Linked DNA regions of Homo sapiens: region 2 is linked to region 1. A link means that fine-mapping ties the variant in region 1 to the expression of a gene that starts in the linked region. Tissue or cell type: blood mononuclear cells. Region 1 holds a variant in brackets; the other region holds the start of a gene. All regions are shown on one strand. Distances are between the middles of the regions.

The links. PIP is the estimated chance that this variant, and not a neighbour inherited with it, causes the effect.
Region 2: ZNF678 starts here. The variant in region 1 is fine-mapped to the expression of ZNF678 in blood mononuclear cells (TOPMed, PIP 0.93).

What each region holds. Positions count from the first base shown.
Region 1 is chr1:227,896,766-227,904,938 of GRCh38, reverse strand. No RefSeq gene overlaps it. Among named protein-coding and RNA genes, the nearest start is that of MIR5008, 41 kb to the left of the region's middle. RefSeq lists enhancers at 2,654-3,654, 4,888-5,388, 8,151-8,173. The variant C/T (reference allele first, on the strand shown) is at 4,474.
Region 2 is chr1:227,558,663-227,566,835 of GRCh38, reverse strand. ZNF678 (zinc finger protein 678) reads right to left here and starts at 3,280. Exons shown (of 4, transcript NM_001367909.1): 1 at 3,112-3,280. It also overlaps the pseudogene RNA5SP77. RefSeq lists enhancers at 3,045-3,324, 7,580-7,639, 7,670-7,979.

The DNA of each region.
Region 1 (8,173 bases):
GGAGGGAGCAGAGCCCAGGAGGAGCACTGAGGTTCCCAGGTACACAGAGACTGGAGCCAGGGCGCTTTTGGAGTGACCCTGAGGGGTGCCCAGGCCCCTAGACTAGTTCCTGCAGCCTTGTGTGTGAAGATGACGGGGCTTTGTGGGCCTCTCACCCCATGTTGAGTGGTCCAGGAGCTACCAGGGACTGTGCCCCACTCCTGGGCCTCTGGCTGCGGTCCCCACAGAAGGGCTGGCTGTGGGCACTGTGCCTGAGGCTCACAGCAGGAAGGGTGGCTGCCCACCCGGCCGGACAGGGGCATCTGCAGAGCCACCCACCATGAACAGCACCTCCAGGCTTAGGGGACAATGACCCTCCCCAGTCCAGGGCTGGGGCCGTGTGAGAGCTGCCCTCTTATTCCCCTGATGGAATGCGAGGGCCAGATGCTCTTGGGAGCTCAGGCACAGACAGGAGCCACAGCGAACCTTCCAGGGAACATGCCCGCCACCCGGGATCCCATGGAGATGTTGCCCTCAGCTGGTGCCCACTGACCCCAGGAGATCGCCTCGTTGACACCCGGCTAACCTCCTGCTGCCCTGGCTCCCGCTGCCCCCAGCCAAGGGTGACTGGCCGAGTGCCAAGCCCCAGTGGCATGGTGGGGATGCACACCCCCGCCCCGTCTGCACCCAGAGCACAAAGTCCCCTTGGCAGACCCAGGGCAGGGCTGGGGGTCCCACGAGGCCTGCCTGGTCAGGGAGGGCCCAACTGCCTTGTCCCCATGACAGGCTGGGAAAGACTGCAGCTGGGAGCCGGGATGTCACAGGGCTACATGGCCTTGGCAGAGGGTTCATGAACAGCTGGGTCTAGACTGGAGCTCGGCTGGGCATGCTCTAGCAGGAATGGGGAATGGCCCGCCTGGCCCGCTGTGCGCTTCTGGCCACCCCTCCACCTGACATGCCCAGGTCACAGCCCAGAGAGGACCAGGGCAGAGCCAAGGTTGGGTTCAACTAGGTCTCTGGGAGCTGCCAGCCCTGTGATCACAGCTGTGTCTCCAGAACCAAGGTAGGGCTACATCCTTCAGACCCCAGGGTGAGGCTGTGTACCCCAGGCCCCTGAGCGGGCCCACATCCCCCAGACCCCAGGGTAGGGTCACGTCCCCCAGACCCCAGGGCGGGGCCATGTCCCCCAGATCCCAGGGTAAGGCTGTGTACCCCAGGCCTCCGGGCGGGGCCACATCCCCCAGACCCCAAGGCAGGGCTGTGTCCCCCAGACCTCAGAGTGGGGCCACATCCCCTGAGCCATGTCCCCCAGACCCGAGGGTGAAGCTGTGTCCCCCAGACCCCAGGGGGGCCACATCCCTAAGACCCCAGGGCAGTGCCATGTCCCCCAGACCCCAGGGTAGGGCCACATTTCCCAGACCCTAGGGTAGGGTCACATCCCCCGGACCACAGGGTAGGGCCATGTCCCCCAGACCCCAGAGTGAGGCTGTGTCCCTCAGACCCCAGGGTGGGGCCACATCCCTAAGACCCCAGGGTGGTGCCACTTCCCCCAGACCCGAGGGTAGGGCCGTGTTTCCAAGACCCCAGGGTGGGGCTGCATCCCCCACACCCCAGGCAGGCGTGGCCTCCTCTCCTGCCATGAGGTGTTGGCTTCCTTTCCACCTGGAGGCCTTTGGGCAAGGGGTGCCCTGTGGTGCCCGTGGGGCTGCACCTTCTTGGCTGAGGGGTCTGGCTGTGTGGGAGGAGGGGCGCCCGTCTCCAGCCACCATCCGGGGCCTGGCTAGTCTGTGAACGGCCCAGGTGGGGCTCCAGAGCCAGCTGTGTGTGGGGTAGGTCTGTGAGGTGGTCAGGGTCCCACCCTGGGGTTTGCAGTGCCTAGTGCCTGGCTGGGAGCAGAGGCCAGGCCCTGGCTCTAGATTCTCTTAGGCTCGAATTTCAAGGGCTGCGGGAAGGACAGGTCTTCCTTGGAGCTGTAGGATGTGGGGATATGCCAGTTGCCCAGTCCCCCCACTGCCCCACACTGTCTCGGGTCTCCTTAGAGCCCCCAGCCTCAGCCTAGGGTTTGGGGAGCCCCTCCTTGCTCACGATCAGGCATCCCCGCCCCACTGGTGCCCACAGTGGGACTGGAGGAGAGGATGGCAGGAGCACTGAGGCAGCCCAGGCATGGGGGTCTGGCGGCGCCACAGGACAGGCCAGGCTGGCGTGTCCTGGGTTCCCGAGCCCTGCCTGGCCCCTGGTACCCTGGTCTCGGCTTGGGGAGCAGTTGCTCTTTCAGGTTGGGTGTTCCAGGCAATGTGAAGCCGCCTCCCTCCCTGGTCAGCCCCACCCCCTGCTGTCTTGAGAGTTCCAGGATGGAGCCGTCTGCCCACTGTCCTGGCCTGTACATGTGGCTCTGGGCCCCCAGCCTCTGGACGGCAGGAGGTTGTTATCCCAGACCGATGACTCTTTTCCTCAATGCACGGGTAGGGAGACAAAGGCCCAGGAGGCCGGGGCCAGCAGGAGAGGCCCCTCCCCACGGCTGACTAGGCTCAACCAGGCCACACCACCCGCAGGACCTCCCCAGGCCACCAGGGAGACCCAGCAACACACACAGAGACACACACACACACACACACACACACACACACACTCACAGACAGTGAGTAAGACAGAGACAGACACAAAGTCAGAAAGACAGAGACAGACAGAGAGAGAATGAAACAAAGAGAGGCAGAGGTAGAGACAGACACACAGACATAGAGAGACAGAGACCTGCCTGGCCTGGCCTGGCCATCAGGGGTCAGGGTAAGCCATCCCTCTTCCCCTAGGAGCAGCCTCAGATCAGGGGTTTCTTCCCACCTGGAGTCTCCTCTCCCATCCCTGGGGATGCTGGAGATGGGAAGTGGGCTCAGCCTGGGGGGCGGGGGGTGGAGCTGTGCCCTCGCAGGAGCCCATCCTGGGGCTCTGTCATGGGCACCCCCACCCTCCTCCCGAGCTTCTCCACCGTGAGGCTTGTCCCCATTGTCTTGTCCCTACCCACCTTCTCCCTACTACCTGGACCTAGGGCTGGACTTCAGTTTCCTCGGGCGGTCACCTGCCCCAAGTCTGCCCCTCCATCTGTTCCCCTGACAATGTTCCGACCCCTGAGGCCAGTGTCCCTGCCTTGCCTATGGCCCACATGCTGTCCAGGCCCAGGAACTCTGCCTGGACCCTCCTGGCCTTCTCACGTGCAGGTGGAACTCCCATCACAAATGACTCAAGTGTGCCACCTCCTCCTCCAGGCAGCTTCCCGGGATTGCCTGCCCAGGCCTAGGTGCCACTCTCAGAGACAACGTGTCTATCCTGGGCCAGGTGCCTTCAAGGATGATGCCCATGGGAGAGGGGCTTTTTGAGGCCCGGTGGGCTGCCTGGAAGGTCCCAGTGCCTGTCCCCAGCAGGGGCTTGGTGTGGACAGGAGGCCTGATGTACCCTGGGTACAGCCAAGGAGGAGGCCAGACAGCCCCACAGACTGCTTGGTCTAGCACGGTCGCTGGGACAGGGGAGGAGGGGTACTCATGGAAATGCTGCTGAATTCATGACGTCAAGCTCCACTGGATCAGGGCTGGAGGGCTGGCCAAGGGCTTGGGAGAGGCTGGGTCTGGTCCAGGCTCCCTAGGAAGGGGAGCTCTGCAGGGGGAGGTATCGCAGCATCCTTGACTCCCAGGGCCAGTCCCCGATGGACCTTTTGGGCCGGGGAGGTAACCAGGAGGGCTGGTGGGGCGGGGGGGTCTCTGCTGGGGTCTGTGGGCTCCAAGGTCACTAGGAGATCCCTCCCGATGGACCCTGAGCTTCTATCAATTCAAAGGCCCAAAAGAAAAGGCTGGGGCCCTCCTACTCCCAGTTACCCAGCCCTAAAGACCAGCCAGGTTCTTGTGCAATTGGGAATCTTTTACACAAGAATGAGCCTACATGGCGGGAAAAGCAAACAGTTGGCACAACATAACTGCACAGACCCAATGGGCACCATGCCTGATACTCTTCTGAGAATGTCCAATTCCTGACTGCCAGAGGCTGTTGACAAGCCTGGAACTGGGCCAAGAAATTGAAAGTTACAGCCCCAAAGGCAGGAGCACAGGACACGGACAGGACAGGACCTGGAAGGGACACGTGGCCCAGGTCCCTGCATTGATATGGGAGTGCTGTGGAGAGACAGGACGTGGAGGGGACATGTGGCCCAGGTCCCCCCATGGACACGGGAATGCCATGGAGGGACGGGATGTGGAGGAGACGTGTGGCCCAGGTCCCCCTGTGGACATGGGAATGCTGTGGAAGGACGGGATGTGGAGAGGACATGTGGCCCAGGTCCCGCCATGGACACGGGAATGTCGTGGAGGGATGGGACGTGGAGGGGACGCATGGCCCAGGTCCCCCTGTAGACATAGGAATGCTGTGGAGGGATGGGATGTGGAGGGGATGTGTGGCCCACTTCCCCCCCCCCTCCCCGTGGACATGGGGACACTGTAGAAAGACAGAACA[C/T]TGAGGGGACATGTGGCCCAGGTCACCTCAAGGACATGGGGACCCTGTGGAGACGGGACACTGATATTGTCTGTCCCTATGTGTCTATCTCACTGTCCTGTCTCTCCTGCTTCCATGGCCACCAGCCTCTGTGGGCTGACACTGAGGGAGGGACACTGAGCATGGCTCCTGTGGGTCTGTGGGCCTGTGCTCTGGTCTGGCCGCACGCTGTTGGTGGGCTGTGGCACTAGGCTGGTGCCCTGCCTGCAGTCTGTTGTGACTGTGACGGAGTCATGTGTTTCAAGGCCATTTTCAGGTGGGAGGCGTTCCGGGGTCTGGTCCCAGCATGGTGGGGCATAGGCCAGTGACCTAGGGCTGTGGGGAGGCTGTGGAAGTTGGGGAAGTGCGTGGAAAAGAGGTTCAGGCTGGGCCGTCTGGCGGAGTTGTACCCCGGAGGGGCTTCTCTCCGTCCCACAGCCAAGGTGGGTGCGTGGGCCCTGCAGCTTCAGAGAGTTTTCCTTGCACGAGTTCCTGTGGGACTGCAGGCCGCCTGCGCCCCGCCTCCTACCCCTGGCCCAAGCACATTCTCCGCCCTGGATGAAGGAACTTCCAACAGCAGAGCAGCATGGGACGCCCCTGCACCCACCACTGCCCTCACACAGCCAGAGGAAAACAGCTGAACATAGACACTAGCGGGAGGGACATGCCGGGAGACAGACAGAGACAGGGAGAGGAAGAGATAGGGAGAGGAAAGGAGAGAGACGGAGAAAGATGGAGGGAGACAGAGAGAGAGAGATTGAGAGACAGAGGGGAAGATAGAGACAGAGGGGGGAAGCAGAGAGACAGAGACAGAGGGAGACAGAGAGTGGCAGAGAGGTAAGACAGAGAGACAGAAACAGAGAGACAGACTGAAAGAGAGAGCCGCAAAGCAGACTGGGGGCTGCCGAGCCTGGCGTGAGCACCTGCACCTGCCACTTTGCAAGGGAAGAAGAGGGGACAGAGGGCAGGGGTGCCTAGGACGTGACTTTGGGGAGGGCAGGGGTGAACCAGTGGCATCTAGGGGAGGGCCTGTCACCCAGGGGCTGGCGGGGGGTAGCTCTCCCGAGGGCAGCAGAAGGTCCTCAGCCTGGCCCAGTGCCCTGCACTTCTGCCCTGTGCCCCCTGTCTGGCCCCCTGTGTCAGCGGCCAGGCAGGGTGGGTACAGCCTGTGACCCTGCTGTCATACGCCTGTTGGAGCTACCCCATCCCTTCCTCTCATCCTGGTCCCTCCCCCTGCTCTGGCCACTCCCCTGTGGTTCTCTGAGACCCCCCTCTCCGGCTCTCCCACCTGCACCCCCTGGCCCACTGTCACTTGACCTATGTTAGCTGTGAGAGGTGGCCTGTGTGCCTAAGCCTGCGCTTGAGTGTGCTGCATGAGAACGTGTGTGTGCAGGAGCACCTGTGTCAGGAGACAGAAGCACTTACCTGGGGACTGAAATATCTGAAGGGACTGGGAGGTGCAGAGGGTGGGGCTGGCAAGGACAGTGGGGTCTGCAGAGCTGGGACAAGGATGGGCTTCTGTGCCCAGCCTCCCGAGCCAAGCTTGGAGCTTTGTGGTGTCCCCCATGGTAGAAACCAGTCCCATCAACTTCCCAGGATTCATCCACCCACCTCCCACTATGACCCCCACCCCACCCACACCACCTGCCTGACTCGCCAGGCAGCCGTCCAGGGATCCACTCCTTCCTCTGCCTCTGTCCACCTGTCCATCCTCTCGTTGCGTGTGTCTGCCTAGGGGCCTGGGCCTTGTTCACTGTGGGCCCCAGGAAGCTGTCAGTGCGTGGGCTGCCCACAGGCAGGGCGTCCTCTGCCATGGGATTCTCAGTGGTCTCATGTGAGGTTTCAAGGTTCTGTGTGTGACTTCCTGGTCTGTGTGTGGCTGTGTGACTGTGTGTGTGTCCGTCCGTGTGTGCCAAGTGTGCACCACCCCACGTATGCTTCATAGAAATTCCAAAGGAGGGCAATGGGGTGGGGAAACTGAGGCACCTTTTTTTTTTTTTTTTTTTTTTACAATGTGTGAGATCCCTGGGCCGGTGGTGGTCAGCTCTCTTACCTCCTGCCACCCACCTCAGAGTCGAGAGGTGAGGGAGGAGACCCATGGGTGTACATGGGGGCTATGGCTGAAGGAGGCAGGTGGGACCCTCCTAGTGCTGGCTGGGGGACTGGGCCACAGGCAGGGGCCTTGAATCACTGGGAGGATGAGACCCTGGGGATACTCCTCAGAAAAGGAAACGGGGGCTTGAGCTGGGCCCTGGCCTGTTAGCACCGCTGACCCTGGTGGTCAGATATCTGCTGAAGGGACAAATGCATTCACTCCTCACTGGCCGGGTGCCATTCGTTTGTTCATTCATTCAGCCATTCACTCATTTTCTCCTTAGTTCATTTATCAATTCATTTGTTCCTTTGTTCAATCATATGTTCATTCATTTATTAATTTGTCCAGTAAATCATTAGTTCATTCATGCATTTGTTTGATTAATCACTAGTTCATTCATTCATTCATTCATTCATTCCTTTGTTCAATCATTTGTTCACTCATTGATTCCTTTGTTCATTCATCCAATCAGTTCAGTCACTTGTTTGTGCATTTATCCATTCATTTCTTTGTTCATTTGTCCAATCATTAGTTTATTCATTCATTAATTTGTTGAGTAAATCATTAGTTCATTCACTCATTTGTTTGATTAATCACTAGTTCATTTATTCACTCATTTGTTCAGTTAATCATTAATTTATTCATTCATTTGTTTGGTCAATCATTCGTTCATTCATCCATGCATTCTCTAGACAACCATGAGGCTGGCTGAGCCAGGCAACGGGGCTCTATCCCTGGAAACAGCCAGGTCCAGAGCCATTCAGCCTGGAGGGAGGAGACAGCCCTGTTTCCACCTCAGGCCCATCACCAGCCAGGAGCCGGTGGCCACCATCTTGGGCAGAGCTGACTTGTGGGATGGTGACCCCAGAGCCATGGGCTGTCCCTGGAGGTGGGAGCTCCCCATTGCTGGGGAGGCTACAAGAATGTCCTGTGGGTGTCAGCTGGATACAGAGTACTGGGCCTGAGCCCCATACCCCAATCCAGCTGTGGCCTGCACCAAGGGCTGAGAGCCAGTCTCAGGGCCCCTCCTCTTTGTCCTGTCTCCCTGCTCTCATCCCCACACTGCAGAACCCAGGAAATAGAGATTTCCCGCAGTGTGGCAGATGGTTTGCAGCCTGTATGTGAGGGGCTGGCAGCTCATCTCCCGGATAAGGACACTGAGGCTGTGAGGGGTGAGGGAGGACCCATGGGGCAGGGGAGGAGCTGGAGGGGACAAGTGGGACTCAGTCACCCACGTGGTCTCCCCTGGAGGAAGCGGGGGCCCAAGCCCAGTGCTGGGGGACTCTGGGTGGGGCTGTGGCCCTGTCCACCAGCCTGGCTCCCATGTTTGAGTGGCCTGGGCCTCCGAGGCTGCCCCCAAAGTCTTATGAGGGACCCTGACCCTTAGTGGTCCCCAGCAGGCCTGCTCCCAAACACAGGGCTTCTGCCTCTTGAAGCCTCCATGCACTGGGATGCCTGGGGACAGGAGCTGAGATACTGGGCAGGGGCTCTGTGTGTCCCTGTGGGCTGTTGCGAAGCCTGGCAGGTACGGGGGTGTGGGAGGGCTGGCCCATGGGCCACTGCTTTGCAGGAAGAGGAAAGGGCATT
Region 2 (8,173 bases), 340 kb after region 1:
ACTCACTCTGATGAAGAAAAAGGTAAATGAGTTTTTTAACAAATGAAGTATATGACTACATATTTTTTTCCTAGAATTCACCACGTTCATACCCTTTGTAAATATTTTCTAACCTTTCAAGCTCTACTGATAAAGTGTAATATATACTTAATAAAAAACTGATGATGAAATAAGTGAACAAATCTTTTTAAGGTGACAAACTCAGGGAGAAGCAGTACTACCTGGAACACAGACACATCCGACTCAAGCGTCAAGTCAGGCTATCCTATAATTTGGGACATTCTCCCACCCCTCATTCTGCTCACTGAAGTGCTCACTGACCATTCTGTCTGGAGACACTGCACTGTGCCTCACGGTGTGCCCCAGGGATGTTTTGCTTTGCATGTTCTCGCACCAGCTCACTGGAGTAGTTATTGCTTGTCCTTTGGACTAGTTTTTCTCCCTTCACAAGTCTGAGAATCCAGAGGGCAGGAATTATTTCTGTCTTTTCCCAACACCACTGATGTGTCTCCAGGCAATGAAATTGGGGGTTGGGGGAGAATGTCTAAGGGGTTAGCTTTTTAGGTGAAGGGTGTACCAGAAGACTTCTCTCAGCCCCAGGACATCCAGCTGCTTCACTGAGAGGCTCCATCTCCATGCCATAGGCTGTCCTCTGGGAGGAAAAAACCCAGGAACCAAAATTCACTAGATACTCCAAGAGACATAGCCACTGTGGGCATCTTGGGCCATTCCCAGACAATTCTGAAATTCAGGACTAGGATAAGAGTGGCTGAGGAGCCGGGCGCGGTGGCTCACGCCTGTAATCCCAGCACTTTGGGAGGCTGAGGTGGGCGGATCACGAGGTCAGGAGATCAAGACCATCCTGGCCAACACGGTGAAACCCCGTCTCTACTAAAAATACAAAAAAATTAGCTAGCCGGGCATGGTGGCGGGCTCCTGCAGTCCCAGCTACTCGGGAGGCTGAGGCAGAATGGCGTGAACACGGGAGGCGGAGCTTGCAGTGAGCCAAGATCAGGCCACTGCGCTCCAGCCTGGGCGACAGAGCGAGACTCCGTCTCAAAAAATAAATAAAAATAAAAAAGAGTGGCTGAGGATACAACCAGCTGTAAAGTTTCCAAAGTTTTCAAAGATTTTGTACAAGGCGTCTGTGCCTAGGAAAGATAAAAAGCAGAGTGGCACAAATATTTCTTTACAATAGAGTGCCAAGAGGTTATTCTCTGCCTTCACAAACAGATAACAAATCTTTAAAGAGTTCCACAAACATGGGTAACTAGCGAAACCCAATCTCTACAAAAAAATAAAATAAAAAGAATTAGCTGGGCATGGCAGCACACACATTTAAGCCTAGCCACTCAGGAGGCTGAGGCAGAAAAATCACTTGAGTCCAGGAGTTGGAGGCTTCAGTGAGCTATGACAATGTCACTGCATTCCAGCAGCCTGGATGACAGAGCAAGATCCTCTTAAAAACAACAAGTCAGGCGTGGTGGCTCGCCCCTGTAATCCCAACGCTTTGGGAGGGAGAGGCGGGTAGATCACGAGGTCAAGAGATCAAGACAATCCTGGCCAACATGGTGAAACCCCGTCTCTACTATAAATACAAAAATTAGCCAGGTGTAGTGGCGCACGCCTGTAGTCCCAGCTACTTGGGATGCTGAGGCAGGAGAATCGCTTGAACCCAGGAGGCGGAGGCTGCAGTGAGCCGAGATCACGCCACTGCACTCCAGCCTGGCAACAGAGCGAGACTCCAACTCAACCAAAAAAAAAAAAAAAAAAAAAAAAAAGCCGGGTAGGGAAAAAACAACAGGCCAGGCGTGGTGGCTCACGCCTGTAATCCCAGCACTTTGGGAGGCCAAGGCGGGGGATCACGAGGTCAGGAGTTGGAGACCAGCCTGACCAACATGGTGAAACTAAAATACAAAATACTAAAAATACAAAAATTAGCCGGGGGTGGTGGCGCGGGTCTGTAATCCCAGCTACTCAGGAGGCTGAGGCAGGAGAATCGCTTGAACCCGGGAGGCAGAGGTTGCAGTGAGCCAAGATCGCGCCACTGCACTACAGCCTGGGCTACAGAGCGAGACTCCTTCTTAAAGAAAAAACAAAAACAAACAAAACAACAACAGCAACAACAAAGAGTGCCCTCCAATGTTCTGTGAAAAAATGATTAATTAAAATATTGTGCCTGGAGTACGCAATAAAAGACAAATAGCTGACAGTGTTGTGAACTGAAGAGGTGATGGTGGTTTTTATGAATTTTGGAAAGAAACTGAAAATTTAGTATTTTATTGCAGGCCAGAGTCAGGCTGGGAGAACAGAGGAGTGGATTTAAGACCCTGCTTTCCATGTTATTTGGAAAATGCAGGGGAAAAGCAGTCTCTTGTGCAGTGTTAAAATAATTAGCAGGCAATTAGACTGAGGTGGCTCTAGTGTCTTGCGTTTCTACATGAAAAAGAATATTAATAGCTCAAATGCATTTCTTGTTAATGACTGCCTTAAGTAGAAACAAAATCCAAGTTCAACCAATCACAAAACTCCAATTAATCAGTAATTAAATAACCAGGAAATTTCCACCTGGACAGTCCAAATAAGGTGACTGTAACTGTCGTCAATTATTAAATTTGGCTTGCTTCCTCATGCACCTTACAAAAAAGTTTTTCCTTCAAGCACCTCCTCCATAAACCCACAAGCCACACACCATAGCTGGGCGCTCTCCCATTCATGAAACTCCCTTTCCTCAAACTCTTCAAAGCTTTAAAAGTGACTCCATTTTTCACAGGAAAAAGGATGGACTGCACAGCTAAGATAAGCCCCATGGAACAGCTCTTCCCACGCATGTTTCGCACACCGATTTGGCTTCTCCCCGATGACCCTCCCCTCTGGACAAAGCACACAGTCTGGGGGACCCGCGGGGCTGCGGCTTCATAGCCGCCCAGAGAGGCCGGGGCGGAAGCCGCGGCGCAGTGATGGGAGGAGAATCCCGCGGCGGCCTGGCCCCGCCCCTACCCAGAGGTGACAGATCCCACAGGTGCCAGCCGGGACTCCGGGCCGCGGACTCTAGTGCTGACGCCGGGAGGCCGGACCGCCATCTTGGAACACCCTCCCGGGAACTCTCACCGTTTTCCGGCTTTCGGGGTGTCCTGGCATCTTAGCTATGTAACTCCCAGTACCTGCAGGTCACAGGGAAACCAGACACTGCAGCAGCAGAGTCACCAGGGCCTCCCGCAGCTGGGGATAAATAGCCGAGAATACGGGACCAAAGCTCCAGCTGGAGCACAAGACAAAGGCCCCGCCAGATCCCGGAAACCCCCTCCGCCTCTCAAGCTGCGCTCCTGATTGGACAGTTCCCACGTCAATGTCCCTGATTGGACAGGGCTCCAGGACCCGCCTCCTTTGGTTATGAGTGACAGGAGATGAGGTCAGCAAAGGGGTTGAATGAGACTATTAACAAAATGGGCAATTTTTTTTGTATCCTTCCAAAATTGTTCCATGTCTTTCCATGCATACCATCTTTAATAAAGGGCGCACTCTTAAGCCAATCTGCAATCTCTGTTCCTGAGTGTCTAAACAACGTCATCATCATCTTCTGTTGGAGAAAAACCTGAAGATGAGTTTTCCTCCCAAAGCACAGAACAGTCAGAAGCCGAGGCGTGCTTGGGAATGCTGGCGGGTGGAAAGGGGAGGCGCATTCCGGTGCGCCTGTGGAACTGTCCTTGCAAGCAGGACCCAGGTCCAGAACAGCTATGCAATGCATGTGTTTCTGACCAAAGGGGGCCTGCTGTCCACCCGCCTCTTCTGCTGGGCAGGGCAGCGCATGGTTGGGGTATTTACACCCAGGCAGGTGTCCCAGGCCAGTCCCCTGTCAACCCATCATAATAAAAAAGTCAGAATCTATTTTCAAAAGTATATTCAAAAGCATATGTTTAGGATACCTACCTGAGAGCATAGACTAAAGTTGCCCTGATTATACATTCCAACTAGTAACCATTACAAGTGGGTTTTAAGAAAAGAGGCAGTTCCTAAAATTTTCATCAAAAATTTACATTAAAATCCAGAAGTCACTGACTGGCTATACATTGTTCTTTGTATCACAAATTCCAGATGAGACAGCTAGTTAGGAACAACATACCTTTAAACAATTGCCCCTGGGAAAGGGTGTGGAGATGTGTCTCAAATCCCATACTCAAGTCTCTCTGGGCCAGAAAAATCTTCCGTACCTCACAGAGCTTCAGCTACTTAGAGCTATTCTTTTCTTATCTCCATAGTCAGTACACTTGGACCCTTAACAAGAAATAAGTTCAAACAGAAAATTTGCCAAGCCACAGGAATAATGGCCTGTCAGTGCCCTTCAGGAAGCTGATTGTCACTTTCCTTCAACACCCTTTCCACAGCTTCCCCCCAACACACACACCCTGGATCCCGGGAGAGAGGGGCTGAGACGCACCCAGACACACCTCGCTGCCCCTCCTGCAAACATACACCCACACACAGACACACAGACAAAGACACAGACACAGGCAGCTTGAAGGAGAGCAAGAGAGAGGGATGGAGACATAGAAACGGAGGGAGAGAAAGACAGTGATAGAGAGGCAGAGTGAGTCAGGATTGAGAGAGAGAGAGAGAGAGAGAAGGCTACAGAAAGAGCACGAGGTGGAGGGGGAAGAAGAAGAGAGAGGATGAGGGACTTACAGAGCCATAGAGCCTTGGAGAGGGAGTGTTCTGCTCCGGTAGACAGGGCCCCTTTGAGCAGGACAGGGTAGGGTGGAGGGTGCTTGGGCTGGGCCAGAACAGGGTGGAAGGGCTAACGGAGTGACCCAACAGAGCCCTGAGACGTATTTTTTGTTGGATTGGTTGCTTTGGTGGTGCGTTTCATAGGACTTTTCCTTTGTTGGCTCCTCCCTGTCCTCTTGGTGCGGTGGGCCCCGAGATTTGTAGAGTGCAACCGTCCCTCTAGCGAGAGCTGTGGCACCGAGCATGCCCACGGGGCAGAGGCCTGGGTCTGTCTCGTGTCCTCCGGAATGGAGTTTATACGAAGTTGGTGGCAATGGGATTCCGAGTGCACAGGGACGGTTTTCCTGGTGGCTGGAGAAGGCAATGTCCTTCCCCTGGGGAAAGTAGCCCATGCGTTCTGGAGCGGAGGTCTTGGCTGGTGTCTTGTGGGGCCCGCTTCCCCTGCCCGCCCCTTCCCCCGGCTTGGACAGTGCCAGCGGCGCTGGATGAGTGAATTAAATTCCCTGGGCGTCCCGGGAGAGGGAAGACACCCTGGACGGCAGGGAACCCGCCCCTGAGCCTTCGAGGTTGGCCCCGGCCCGGCCCTCCCCGCCCCGCCCCGGGCAGCGAGCTGGGCTACTGATGGGGTGGCTGCCAGGCGGAAGAGCTGGGAAGCTGCTAACTGGCGGTGCTGCAGTGGCGGACGCCCCACGAGGAGGTCCCAGGGTACCGCGAGGGCGCAGGCGGGCGGAAAAGGAGGAGCAGAGTCAGGGTGCGGTTGGGAGGCATCGCGATAAAAGGAGGAAAGTGGGAGGGACCGGGAAACCAAAAAGCCTACAGCACCCGTTATTCCCAGGCGGTCTCCCAGTTAAGTACTAACCAGGCCTGACCCTACTTAGCCTCGAGAGATCAGACGAGATTGGACGCGTTCAGGGTGGTATGGCCATAGACGCCTGGCAGCCCTAAGAGCTCCGCTCAGTCTTGCGCGCCCGACTCCAGGCATCCCGGCAACCCCGGGTCCACGGGGCTCGGATCAAGTACCCCTGAGCTGCTCGCCGGCGGCCGGGCTGGTCTGCTCTCCCCCTCTACCGGCCGCTCTCCCCCTCTACGCCCGAGCACCGTCCACCGCGCGCTGCGCCTTCCGCTGGCCTCCCAGAGCCTCCCGCAGTAGCTGGTGGCCAGGCCAAGCGTGGGACAGCCACAGCGCCGCCCTGCTGCCGGGCGTGGGCGCCAGAGGCCTCTGTCTCCTGCACAGGCTTCGGGCTCTCGAGGTGGCCTCCCTTCCGCCGAAGCTCCAGGCCTTTCCCCAGCTCCCGAGCTCCCGAGCTTCCACTACATCGGGCCCGCTCAGGACCGGGTGTGCTCCGAGACGTCAGGGCCCAGGGCCCACGGTCCTGGTATCCCCGCCGGTCTTCTGTCTTAGCAGTGAGGGATTGTTTTGGATCCCTCTGCAAGGTCCCCTCTTGCCCCACCCACCCAGAGCCTCTAGGGCTGGCCAAGGGCGATCAGCCGACCCAGTCCTGCGGGCCCTCTTTCTCAAAACGCCTTCAACCCTGTCCCCTGTCCCGACGAGGACCCAGCCCGTGGGCAACAAGGGGGCCGGGTGGGTTCTGCTTTGCCCCGCGCTGGCACCAAAGCCGGCAGCCTGATCCTGGGAGAGAGGGGCTGAGGCACACCCAGACACAACTCACGACCACCATGAGCAAAACCACCCATTCACACAGGGGCGCAAGCTTGCGGCCACACACACACACACACACACACACAGCTTGAAGGAGAGCAAGAGCAAGAGGGATGGAGAGATAGAAACGGAGGGAGAGAGAGACAGCGATAGAGAAACATAGTGAGGGAAGAGAGAAAGACAGAGAGAGAGAAGGCGACAGAAAGAGCGCAAGGTGGAGGGGGAAAAAGAGAAAGAGAGAGGGTGAGGGAACTAGAGAGCGAAAGCGATAGAGCCCTGGAGAGAGAGCGCTCTCCAAGCCATAGAGAGAGAGACAGGGTGAGGGAGGAGAGAGAGAAAGAGAGAGAGAGAGAGAAAAGGCGACAAAAAAAGCGCGAGGTGGAGGGGAAGAAGAGAAAGAGAGGGTGAGAGACCTAGAGAGCGAGAGCAATAGAGCTTTGGAGAGGGAGCGCTCTGCTCTGGTAGATAGGGCCCCTTTGAGCAGGCCTGGGTAGGTGGAGGGTGCTTGGGCTGGGCCAGAACAGGCTTTGGGCTCTCCAGGCAGCCTCCCTTCCGCTGAAGCTCCAGGCCTTCCCCCGGCTCCCGAGCTCCCGAAACCACATCGGGCCCGCTCAGGACGGGGTGTGCTCCGAGGCGTCAGGGCCCAGGGCCCACGGTCCTGGGTCCTGGGATCCCCTCTGGTCGTCCGCCTTAGCGCTGAGGGATTGTTTTGGATCCCTCGCTGCCCCTCCTGCAAGGCCCCCTCTTGCCCCACCCAATCAGAGCCGCCAGGGCTGCCCAAGGGCGATAAGCCGACCCAGCCCCGCGGGCCCTCTTTCTCACAAAGCCTTCACCACCGTTGCCTTTCCCGAGGAGGACCCTGCCTGTGGGCAACAAGGGGTCCGGCGGAGGGGCACTGTTTGCCCCGCGCTGGCACCAAAGCCGGCAGTCTGATCCCGTGAGACAGGGGGTGAGGCCCACCCAGGCACAACTAATGACCACCACGAGCTAAACCACCGCACCCCCCCCCCCCACAAAGGGTGCACGCGCGTGGGCAAACACACACACAGACACACAGACAAAGACACATACAGAGACAGCTTGAAGGAGAGCAAAGAATGAGAGATGGAGAGATAGAAACGGCGGAAGAGAGAGACAGCAGTAGAGAGAGAGGCAGGGTGAGGGTGAAGACAGAAGGGTGAGAGAGAGAGAGAGAGAGAAAAGGTGACAGAAAGAGCGCGAGGTAAAGGGGGAAGAAGAGAAAGAGAGAGGGTGAGGAACCTAGAAAGCGAGAGCCATAGAGCCTTGGAGAGGAAGCGTTCTGCTCCAGTACACAGGGCCCCTTTGAGCAGGCTGGGGTAGGGTGGAGGGTGCTTGAGCTGAGCCAGAACAGGGCGGCAGGGCCGCCCACGAGGGTGGGCCAATGGAGCCCTGAAACGTGTTTTTTCTTGGATTGGTTGGTTGCGTTGGAGGTGTGTTTCGTAGGGTTTTCCCTTAATTTGCTCCTTCCTGTCCACTTGTTGCGGTGGGCCCCGAGATTTGTAGACTGCCCCAGTCTGTCTGGCGAGAGCCCTGACGCCGAGAGTGCCCATGGGGCCTGAGGCCTGGGTCTCTCTTGTGTCCTTGGGACTGGAGTTTACATGAAGTTGTTGGCAATGGGATTCCGGGTGTACAGTTACGGTTTTCCTGGTGACTGGCGAAGGCAATGTCCTTCCCCCCGGGAAAGCAGCCCGCTGCCCCTGCCCGCCCCTTCCCCCAGCTTGGACGGTGGAGGCAGCGCCGGATGAGTGAATTGAATTACCTGGAGGT